2 separate regions of the Homo sapiens genome follow, and region 2 is linked to region 1. Evidence: fine-mapped expression QTL. Tissue or cell type: whole blood. Region 1 holds a variant in brackets; the other region holds the start of a gene. All regions are shown on one strand. Distances are between the middles of the regions.

What was found. PIP is the estimated chance that this variant, and not a neighbour inherited with it, causes the effect.
Region 2: it holds the start of CLEC4F, and the variant in region 1 is fine-mapped to the expression of CLEC4F in whole blood (INTERVAL, PIP above 0.99).

The regions. Positions count from the first base shown.
Region 1 is chr2:70,794,690-70,800,224 of GRCh38, forward strand. No RefSeq gene overlaps it. Among named protein-coding and RNA genes, the nearest start is that of FIGLA, 6.8 kb to the left of the region's middle. RefSeq lists an enhancer at 5,397-5,535. The variant G/C (reference allele first, on the strand shown) is at 2,980.
Region 2 is chr2:70,817,909-70,823,443 of GRCh38, forward strand. CLEC4F (C-type lectin domain family 4 member F) reads right to left here and starts at 2,691. Exons shown (of 7, transcript NM_173535.3): 1 at 2,555-2,691; 2 at 1,867-1,983; 3 at 1,447-1,536. The coding sequence starts at 2,615.

The DNA.
Region 1 (5,535 bases):
TGGCACACAGTAGACATGCAATAAACATTTGTTGAATGAGTGAGAAGGCAAATGAATGAATGATGCTTGCAATGAAGTAAAAAAGCTACTTTGACATGGGTAAAATAAGAACCTGCTTATTCAGGTAAAATCTTTCACGTTTTGCCATAGCTGCTTGACCCTATAATATATATTTGTGAATAAATAAATAGATGAATGAAAAAGCTTACCTAAGTTTACATAGAAAGTAGGAAGATCTCTCTGCCATGGAAAATTGAAGGATAAGTGTCCTCTTAGATGCTGGTGATATACTATGGTTGATATACACAGTACTGGCTCAGTTGCATTCATCCTATACTGCTCTATGGGTCTAGTAGGGAGTTTCCTGTTCCAGGCTGCCTGAAGTATGTGAACATCTTTAGGTCCCAGAATGCATTGCTCTCCTTGTGTTTGCTATTCCTGCTTATTGCTCTTCCTTTGTGGGACCAGACCTCTTGGGATGCAACTGATAACATCCTCTCTTTACTGCTTTTTTGTTTCCTGAGTCCTAAATACCTTGTAGTCCAGTACAATGCCAGCCGAATGGAGTCCACCCTTGGAGTAAGGATGGGGACACACAGCTATCTCAAAACACAATGCCTTGAAGAAAGGGGATCCCTGTCTAGTTTGCTGATTGATACAGACACTAGGTCTCTGAGTCAATGGTGCAAAAAGCAGGATAAGGCTAAAGGACCTTTTACCAATTTCTTATTGTTGCTCTGTTTCAAAAAGCAAGACATGTGCTTGCTTCAAATCATGTTTCTGACCTCAGCTCCATGACTATTACAGGTAGTCGGTAAAATTTCTCTGGCAATTGAGTTACTACCTGTCTTGGTTTCTGCTGCTGCTGTCAGTTTTGCCTTTTTCTGTGTGTTATTATGTATTTTAGAGGGAAATGAGAAGACTCTTGGTCAAATGCCATTTTAAAGAGAAAATTCCCCTAATACTGGCTTTAAATAACACTTTTTTTTCATTTAAAATTAAGAAAGCTATTTTTTCACTTAGGGAGAGTTAGAAGGCATGCAGTAAGAAGGAACTCTTCACCTTTGCCTGATGACATAAGGCTGGGTGAGATGATGACTTAAGGCTGGCACATATTGAATGCTAACAAATGTCACCATTATTGTCACTTCTCTTGCTAGAAAAGCTGTTTCCCTCCATGCCTGTGGGCGGCTAAGGAAAGGTCAAGACTGCTCTGTCTACCTGGGGACAATTAAACAACACTCCTCCCGAATCCTGCCTTGGAAGGGGAGGGCAGGGACAGGAAGGAAAGAGGGGGAACCTTAGCAGTGATCAGGACACACTCCAGGCAGAGGCTTCCAGCAGGCCAGGGAAGCAGAATCTCAGTTTGGACCCCTGGATTTGGAGCATTTGAATTTTTCTGACTTTGGGTAGGGGGACATTTTTGTTTGTTTTTCCCTTAGGCTTTCAATACTCTAGCCTGTTTTACTTGTGCAAAGGGGCCTATGAATGATATTCCTAAAGCCAGGAAGAGGTAATCATGTTAAGCAGAGTGAAAAAAAACCCCCAGGGTTTCAGGGTTGTTGTTTTTTTTTTTTTAAGCAGTACCTCTTTAACAAGCCATCCCTTCCTTTCAGGAACTCCCACCCCAGGTGCCTCATCACCCCACCCCACCCCTTCCAGAAGGGATTGAGAGAGATAAGGTAGGTGGGGTGTCATTCCTGAGCTGTCCCCTTAGAGGCCTCTGCAGGGAGCCTGCCTTGCAGCAGCAAAGACCTCAGGCCATTCCCCCCAGCAAGGCTCAGTGTAGGCTCAGAAGCTCTTCTAGCTATTCTAAGCAGATGCCAAAGGATTTCATTCAGGATCCTGCTGCTTACACAACCATCAGAGGGCTGGAGAGGCAGGAGGAGCTCTGAGTTTGAGAACACACCACTGCCACTGCCATCAACCCCACAAATGTGGGGAAGGGGCCTAGGACACGGTGGTGGAGAAACGCCTGGCCCCATCTCCTTGCTTTCCACAGAAAATATACAAAAGGACAGGAAGGTGAGCTCTGCCTCACTTTCACCCTCTCAATGTCCTACAACAGTTTCTAATTAAATCATCTTAATTGGCATTCAGAACACTGGGTCCTAATTCTGAAAAATGAAGCTTCTGCAGTGCCAAAAGGCATGAGGTGGAGGCAGCCAATCCACATTATCTTCTCCTACGAGACACAGAGAAATTGCCCTCGCTCCATCTCCAGCCGGTCCACCTTGTCAGTCTTTGCCCGTTAGTTACCCTAGGCCTAGCTGAGAAGAACTCTCCCCTGCTGGGTCTGCCCTCCTGGGCACTCAGCATCCCTTATCACGGTGACCACATTGTGGCTCACACATGCCACCTTTCTCCCATTAGCTCAGGCAAGACAAGAAAGAGCTGCTAAAAAAGCAGCTTTAGTAAAGGAAGACCAAGAATGCATTTTAAACAGGGACCAAAGACTATAGTCAAGCCTATATTGCCCAGAATTCCCATCCAAATCGATTTGGCAATTTCATGTTGTTCATATTCACATAAATTCACATTGTTATGATGATATATTATTTTTGACACAGCATTATAATTTTATCCCACTGTATCCTGGGCATTAGACTTTCCTCCCATTGTGCACATGAGAAAATTGATAGAGTTAAATGACCGGGCAAGGTCACGCTGCCGGTCAGTAGCAGAGCCAAGTCTAGAACTCAGCTTTGTCACATTCACTGCACGTTTGTCACATTCACGTTCACTGCAGCTCTCTTTCCTCCAAGTCTGAGTGGCCTCCAACCCAAGAACACTCAGCACAGCCTCACATTTCCAGCTGCTTGGGTCCCGGCACACAGGTCCTGCCTGCTTGCTATGTGGATTATTTCACTTCCCTTGGGGGCCTTCTCTTCCTCCACCCCCACCAAACATGAGCTGGGATTAGTGTATTGTCTACACCACCAGCAGGGTTAAAAGAAGTTCAAAAGTGCCTCTCAGAGA[G/C]AGAACAGAGAACAGAGAAAAGGAACAGGCACAGAGACTCTGCCCTTGGGCTTTGTCTCCAGGAAACTGGCCAAAGACCTTCCCTTCCCAGAGCCCCTTAGCTCAAGAGCTTCTCATTGGTGCTGCTGTGCTTCAGAGCCCTGACAAGACATAAAGAGAGACCTACAGCCTCGTGAAGAGGCCCTGGGAAGCTTACAGCCATGTGAGCTGCAGTGGCCTTGCAGAAGAGCTGAGAAAATGAAGCAGAGAGTGGGGGCTACAGGCAGAGGGCCATGGCTGTCAAGGGGGACCTTCTGCAGCAGGGCGTTTGTATGACCTTCAGGCAAGTCATCTGTATTCATCCATTTTCACACTGCTGATAAAGACATAACTGAGACTGGGAAGAAAAAGAGGTTTAATTGTATTTACAGTTCCACATGGCTGGGGAGGCCTCAGAATCATGGTGGGAGACCAAAGGCACTTCTTACATGGCAGTGGCAAGAGAAATGAGGAAATGCAAAAGCAGAAACCCCTGATAAAACCATCAGGTCTCGTGAGACTTATTCACTACTACATGAACAGTATGGGGAAACCACCCCAAAATTCAAATGATCTCTCACTGGGTCCCCCCCGCAACACGTGGGAATTATGGGAGTACAATTCAAGATGAGATTTGGGTGGGGACACAGAGCCAAACCATATCATTCCATCCCTGGCCCCTCCAAATCTCATGTTCTCACATTTCAAAACCAATCATGCCTTCCCAACAGTCCCCCAAAGTCTTAACTCATTTCAGCATTAACCCAAAAGTCCACAGTCCAAAGTCTCATTTGAGACAAGGCAAGTCCCTTCTGCCTATGAGCCTGCAAAATCAAAAGCAAGCTAGTTACTTCCTAGATACAATGGGGGTACAGATATTGGGTAAACACAGCCATTCCAAATGGGAGAAATTGGCCAAAACAAAGGGGTTACAGGGCCCATGCAAGTCCAAAATCCAGCAGGGCAGTCAAATTTTAAAGCTCCAAAATTATCTCCTTTGACTCCAGGTCTCACATCTAGGTCATGCTGATGCAAGAGGTGGGTTCCCATAATCTTGGGCAGCTCCACCCCTGTGGCTTTGCAGGGTACAGCCTCCTTCCTGGCTGCTTTCACAGTCTGGCATTGAATGTCTGCAGCTTTTCCAGGCACACAGTGCAAGGTGTAGGTGGATCTACCATTCTGGGGTCTGGAGGACGGTGGCCCTCTTCTCACAGCTCCACTAGGTGGTACTCCAGTAGGGACTGCGTGGGAGCTCCAACCCCACATTTCCCTTCTGCACTGCCCTAGCGGTGGTTCTCCATGAGTTCCCTGCCTCTGCAGCAAACTTCTGCCTGGGCATCCAGGCGTCCATACATCTTCTGAAATCTAGGCAGAGGTTCCCAAACCTCAATTCTTGACTTCTGTGCACCTGCAGGCTCAACACCACGTGGAAACTGCCAAGGCTTGGGGCTTGCACCCTCTGAAGCCACTGCAAAGCTCTATGTTGGCCTCTTTCAGCCATGGCTGGAGCAGCTGAGACGCAGGGCACCAAGTCCCTAGGCTGCATACAGTACAGGTACTCAGGGCCCTGCCCAAAAAACCATTTTTTCCTGCTAGATCTCTGGGTCTGTAATGGGAGAGGCTGCCACAAAGGTCTCTGACATGCCCTGGTGACACTTTCCCCATTGTCTTGGGGATTAACATTTGGCTCCTCATTACTCATGAAAATATCTGCAGCTAGCTCAAATTTCTCCTCAGGAAATGGGATTTTCTCTTCTATTGCATTGTCAGGCTGCAAATTTTCCAAACTTTTATGCTCTGCTTCCCTTTCAAAACTGAATGCCTTTAGCAGCATCCAAGTCACCTCTTGAATGCCTTGCTGCTTAGAAATGTCTTCCACCAGATACCCTAAATCATCTCTCTCAAGTTCCAAGTTCCACAAATTTCTAGGGCAGGGGCAAAATACCAGTAGTCTCTTTGCTAAAACATAAAAAGAGTCACCTTTGCTCCAGTTCCCAAGAAGTTCCTCATCTCCATCTGAGACCATCTCAGCCTGGATTTCATTGTCTATATCATTATCAGTATTTTTGTCAAAGCCATTCAACAAGTCTCTAGGAAGTTGGAAACTTTCCCACATTTTCCTGTCTTCTTCTGAGCCCTCAAAGCTGTTCCAATCTCTGCCTGTTAGCTAGTTACAAAGTCGCTTCCACATTTTCAGGTATCTTTTCAGCAACACCTCACTCCTGGTACCAATTTACTATGTTAGTCCCTTTTCATGCTGCTGATAAAGACGCACCCAGGACTGGGAAGTAAAAGAGGTTTCATTGAACTTACAGTTCCACATGGCTGGGGAGGCCTCAGAATCATGGTGGGAGATGAAAGGCATTTCTTACATGGCAGCAGCAAGAGAAAATGAAGAGATGCAAAAGTGGAAACCTCTGATAAAACCATCAGATCTCATGAGACTTATTCACCACCAAGAGAACAGTATGATGCAAATTATCTCCCACCGGGTCCCTCCCACAACAGGTGGGAATTATGGGAATACAATTCAAGATG
Region 2 (5,535 bases), 23 kb after region 1:
ACCCCACAGCCCCTTTAATCTGCAAGGTCTTTCCCACCAACCTCACATGCATCTACCTCTGGTCCTGCTAGCATCCTTTGTTCACCTCATGAACTAGGACCTAATCTCACACATCCATGATCCCCTTCTGATTCCAGTCTCCCCTCAGGAATAGGGAGAAAAACCCAAGATGGCAGGGACCCTTTCTGGAGCATCCATGTACTATTTCTCATGCACTGCCTATGTAGATGTGTGAGACCTCAGTTACTGTGCTAAGGTAAGAGAGGGGACCTTTCAAGGTACTGGGAGTTCAGTCAAAGATTCTGCTTTGTAAAGATAGACAAACAAATCAATGCGACAGAATGGAGAATACGGAAGTAGACCCCCACACATATGGACAATCGAATTTCAACAAAGGTGCAAAGGCAATTCACGGAGAAAGATAACTTTTTCAACAAATGGTGCTGGAACAATCAATTTCACACCATTATACAATAATTAACTCAAATGAGGCAGAGACCTAAATGTAAAACTAAAAACCGGGCTGGGCATGGTGGCTCACGCCTGTAATCCCAGCACTTTGGGAGGCTGAGGTGGGCAGATCACGAGGTCAGGGGATCGAGACCATCCTGGCTAACACGGTGAAACTCCGTCTCTACTAAAAATACAAAAAATTAGCCAGGCGTGGTGGCGGGCGCCTGTAGTCCTAGCTACTCCAGAGGCTGAGGCAGGAGAATGGCATGAACCTGGGAGGCAGAGCTTGCAGTGAGCCGAGATCACGCCACTGCACTCCAGCCTGGGTGACAGAGCGAGACTCCGTCAAAAAACAAAAACAAAAACTAAAACTAAAAACTGTACAATTTCCAGAAACAAAGGAGAACATCTTTGTAGCCTTGGATTAGGCAGATTTCTCACATACGAGATCATGAGAATAATCCATAACAGAAATAAAATGATAAATTAGACTATCAAAATTAAAATCTTGTTAGGAGAATGACAAGACAAGTCACAGACTGAGAGAAAAATATTTGCAAATCACATGACTAGCAAAGAACAAAGAGTACATACTCTATGATCTCTTATCTATAAAACTCTAGAAAAAGCAAACTAATCTATAGTTACAGCAAGTAGATCTGTGGCTGCCCAGGGATGAGGAGAGGAAGGGAGAGGAAGGAATTACAAAGAGCCACAAGGAAACTTTGGGGTGAGGAGGATGACTATGTGATGATGATTGTGGTGATGGTTTCAGGGGCACACACATATGTCAAAACTTAACAGATTGTATGCTTTAAATATATACACCATTAGACCTCAATAAAACTGTGTTTTTAAAAAATTATCTCTTTCTGTGAGGATGGTGGAGCCCATTCAGTGGTCAGAGGGTACCAGGAGAGAAGCTCATCCTAGGGTCTGAGCATCTGAAGGCCCCAGTTCCCTCTGCACCCCACCCCCACTGTGGCTACTCACTGTTGGGTTCAAAAGGTAAATGCCCAGTAATGTTGTCTCCCAGAATTACGGCTTGCACAGGCTTCGGAACAGGTCTTGTCTGCTGTTGAACTGAGACATTCCATTTTTCCAGGTCAGCAAATCCCCAGCCCTGAGCCTGGGAGGATACGCTGTCCCACACAGAGGTAGAGTTCCAGAACCGGGGAGATAGCAGCAAAGACCCTCCCAGGGTTTCCCTCATGAACCTCAGTTCTTGGGAGGCTCCCCCTTGGACAGTGGCCTTTATCTGTTCCCAGGGAAGCTGTGGCTTGGGCCTGGAGCTGGAGGTGGAATGATCTTTCTGGGAGCAGAGAGGCCCAGAGAGTGTGCATCTGGGGCCCCTGGGGACTTTGTGCTGAAAGGAGAGAAAGTTAGTGAGATTTGGGTCACCTGGGGGCTTACCCACTACAAAGAGAGTCACAAGAGAGAAGACCAAGGTCACAGCCATAAATGCCGGGGTAGCCTGAACGAGCCTCGGTATCTTGGGGGCTGCAGGAGCCATTGCCACAGAGTCCACCTCTGCAGGGGAGAAGGCAGTGTCCAAGGTGAGAGGGTGCTGTGCAAGGTAAGAGGGTGCTGTGCAGGCTGAGACACAGCCTCTCTGATTCTGTTTCCTGGGTTGTCTAATGGGGATGATAACTCCTGCCATGCTTATCATGCAGGTGGTTATGGAGAAGGAAGACAAAACACTTTGGGCTGTTCACCAGAGCTAGATGTGGATATGGTAGCAACACAGAGCTGAGGAGCTCTGAGACCGAGACCACCGATCTCCAAATCTCAAGGAGGCTTTGGTGGTGCACAGGGCACAGAACCTGGCACAGAGCACAGAGCAACAAAAGTGTAGTTTGAATGAAAGAAGAAAGGAAGGGAGGGAGGCCTCACAGGACCAGCTCAGTGTGCAGAGCCGGGATTCCAAGCCAGGACCATCTGAATTCAAAGTTCATCCCCTTTCTCTTGCCAGGTCTGCATCCCCAAGGACAAGGGTCTGGGGAGAGCAATAAGACAGCAATAAGCTGCCTTATGGCAGAGGGCCAAAGGACAGGCAGGCTACTCCCTCACTGGGCAAGAGCTGGGGCCCCAGTTTTCTCACCTTGGGGGTGCAGGGAGACACACTGGTTATCTGTGCAGAAGCGGACTGCCTCACCGTCCATCTCTGCTTCCTTGATCCTCCAGCACTGCTCCCAGCCACTGGCTCCTGGAAGGGCCGTCCCGTGGACCAATGGCAGTGGAAGCAAAGCTGAGACACCCACACTTATATGCTCCTGACCACCCTCCCAGCTCTTCCTCCCTCCCTGCCTGACTCTGCAGAAACCCGCCCCAGTGGGCCCCTCCCCTAGAGGCTCCCAGATACCCATCTGCCCTATTTTCTTCCTCTTCCCATTAGCACCTTCCCGTCAGTTCTCAGCCCCATCATCCCAGCCTCTGCCGCATCCAGCATAACCCCAAACACACCTCTTCTTCTCTGGGGGCTGGGACTGGCACCTAGGAAGGGGGTCTCAGCTTTGCACAGAAAACATCCTTATGACTATGGCTGACCTTTAATTCTAGCCTCAGAACCTCTTAAGTAAAAGGAGTCAGGTAAAAGAGGGGCCAGGTCAGTGCGGCCGATATTTGCAGGTCAAAGGAGGAAGCGGGGTGACCAGCCACTTGGGGACTCACAACTGAATTATAGTATACAGGAGGATGTGCGGAGGTTATATAAAAATACTACATGATTTTGTACAAGGGACTTGAGCATCTGTGGACTTTGGTACCCATGGGAGTCCTGAAACAAATCCCCTGCAGATACCAAGGGACAACTCTGTAAAAAATATATCTGGTCTTCATCTCAGTTCCTGACACAGAACTCCTAAAACGCTTAGAGTTTCCTGGGTGACAGGAGTGTTTTTTGTTATTCATAATAAGCCCCTTAGGACTACACTTGGGTTTATGCTAATGAGGTGACACAGGGTGGACCCTTAGATAATTTCAGGCTGGAGGCTGGTCCCAGAAAGACCAAACATGGGATTAGACTTTGGAAGACTGGGACTTTCAGCCACCCACTCCCATTCCCTACTCCCAGACCTCCAGGTATGGGAGATGGCCTGGGGTCTGGGCTATAACGACTCTTAAAAAATGAGATTCAAGGAGCTTAGGGATTGGTGATCCACATGCCAGGAGGGTGTCATGCCCTGACTCCACAGAGACAGAGTCTCCTGCACTTGGGACCCCACTGGGCCTTGCCCTGTGTACCTCTTCATCAGGCTGTTTTTGTCCTTTACAATAAAAGAATAGGAAGTACAGTGTTTTTCTGAGTTCTGTGAATTGTTCTAGTGAATTATGAAAACTGAGAGGTTGTTGCAGAAACCCCCTAATTTTTTGTTTGAGACAGGGTCTCCCTCTGTCACTCAGGCTGGAGTGCAGTGGTACGATCATAAGTCAATGCAGCCTTGAACTCCTGGACACAAGTGATCCTCAGTTCTCAGCCCCAACATCCCAGCCTCTGTCACATCCAGCATAACCCCAGCATAACTGGGACTACAGGTGTGTGCCAACATACCTGGCTAATTTTTTATTTTTATTTTTTTGTAGAGATGGGATCTCTTTTTATACCCCAGGCTGGTCTGGAACTCCTGGCTTCAAGTGATCCTCCCACCTCAGCCTCCCAAAGTGCTGGGACTACAGGCATGAGCCACCTTGCCTAGCCAGAACCCCCAAATTTGTAGTTGACCAGGCAGAAGTGGGGTCACTACCTCACTTGTAGCTAGCATCTGAAGGGGGGCAGTCTTGTGGGACTGAGGCCTTACCCTGTGAGATCTGTGCTAACTCTGGAAGTTAGTGTTAGAATCTGTTTGAATTGTTGGATGCCCAGCGGGTGTCAGAGAATCGGCTGGTGTCAGGAAAAAGCACACATTTGGTGTCAGAAGTGGTGTCAGAAAATACCAAGCAGGCCCCAACTTTAGCTGATTGGATCCATGCCTCCTGAGGTGACCAGGTTCTCAAGACTAACTCCAAAGAATCTGATGGAGCAGGCTGGGGCCAATGTGTGGCTTTCAATGAGCCCTATCCCTTCCAGGAGGAACAGATACTGCTTCAGGGGTTCCTGCTGCTGGGTGGGCCTAGCATTAGAAGAGAAGGCATGAGGCATCCCAGTGGACAGTGCCATGGAGCTGTGCAAACGTGATGTCCCTGTCCCTGCCACAGGGGTTACCAGCTGAACAGAACCAATATTCCCATGGCTGGTCAAGGAACCCCTCTAAAAGCCAGTGCTGGGGTTACCAGCAGATTCCTGTTCTTTGGTTCCTTCTTGTCTCCATTACTTCAAACGGTCACAATCTTTTTGAAATAAATCACATTTTCTTTCACTTTGGAAAGTCTAATTACATATTACACCATCATAGCAACTCTTAAACAAACTCACAACCTTGCAAATGGCTTGTTCCATCCATGTTGTGTTGTTTCTTTGCTACTTTCACCCTCTGTTCCTATGTCCCATTCTCATGTCTTTTGCACAGATCCTGGGGTCAGCCTCTTATAGGTCCCCAGCTGCCAACTAACAACACTGCAGACCAACCACAAAGGTGGAGAAGCCACACGGAACGTGCCTCCTCTGAGGCCGGGCCAGGAGAACAGCTTTGGCCCAGGAGGAGCCTGTGCCATGCGTGGCTGATGTCAACCCGGCAAGCAAGTCGCCCCGTGGGTAGGGGATCTGCAGACAGGAAGGGAGCGGTTGCCCACACCCAGTTCATGATGGTGGGGGTGTGTGTGTTTGTGTGTGTGTGTGTGTGTGTTGAACTGTGCAGTGTTAGGGGCCCAATGTGTAGAGTGCAGAGCCACCATTTGCTGCCTTTTACCTCCTGTTTGTTGAAAACTGACCTTAGAGAGGAGGGCACAGCAGGAATGAAGGGTGAAGGCACCTATTTCTGGACTATCAACAGCGCTGCCTGAGATCCCAGTGGTGTCTGCCAGACTCCTTCACCGCCACATAGAATGGGATGGAAGCTGCTGGAGGTGCCTCCCTAGAGGCCCATCAGACACCCAGGGCTGGTGGCTGAAAAGAAAGGGCTTGTCTTGGTTTCTGTTTCCCCATAC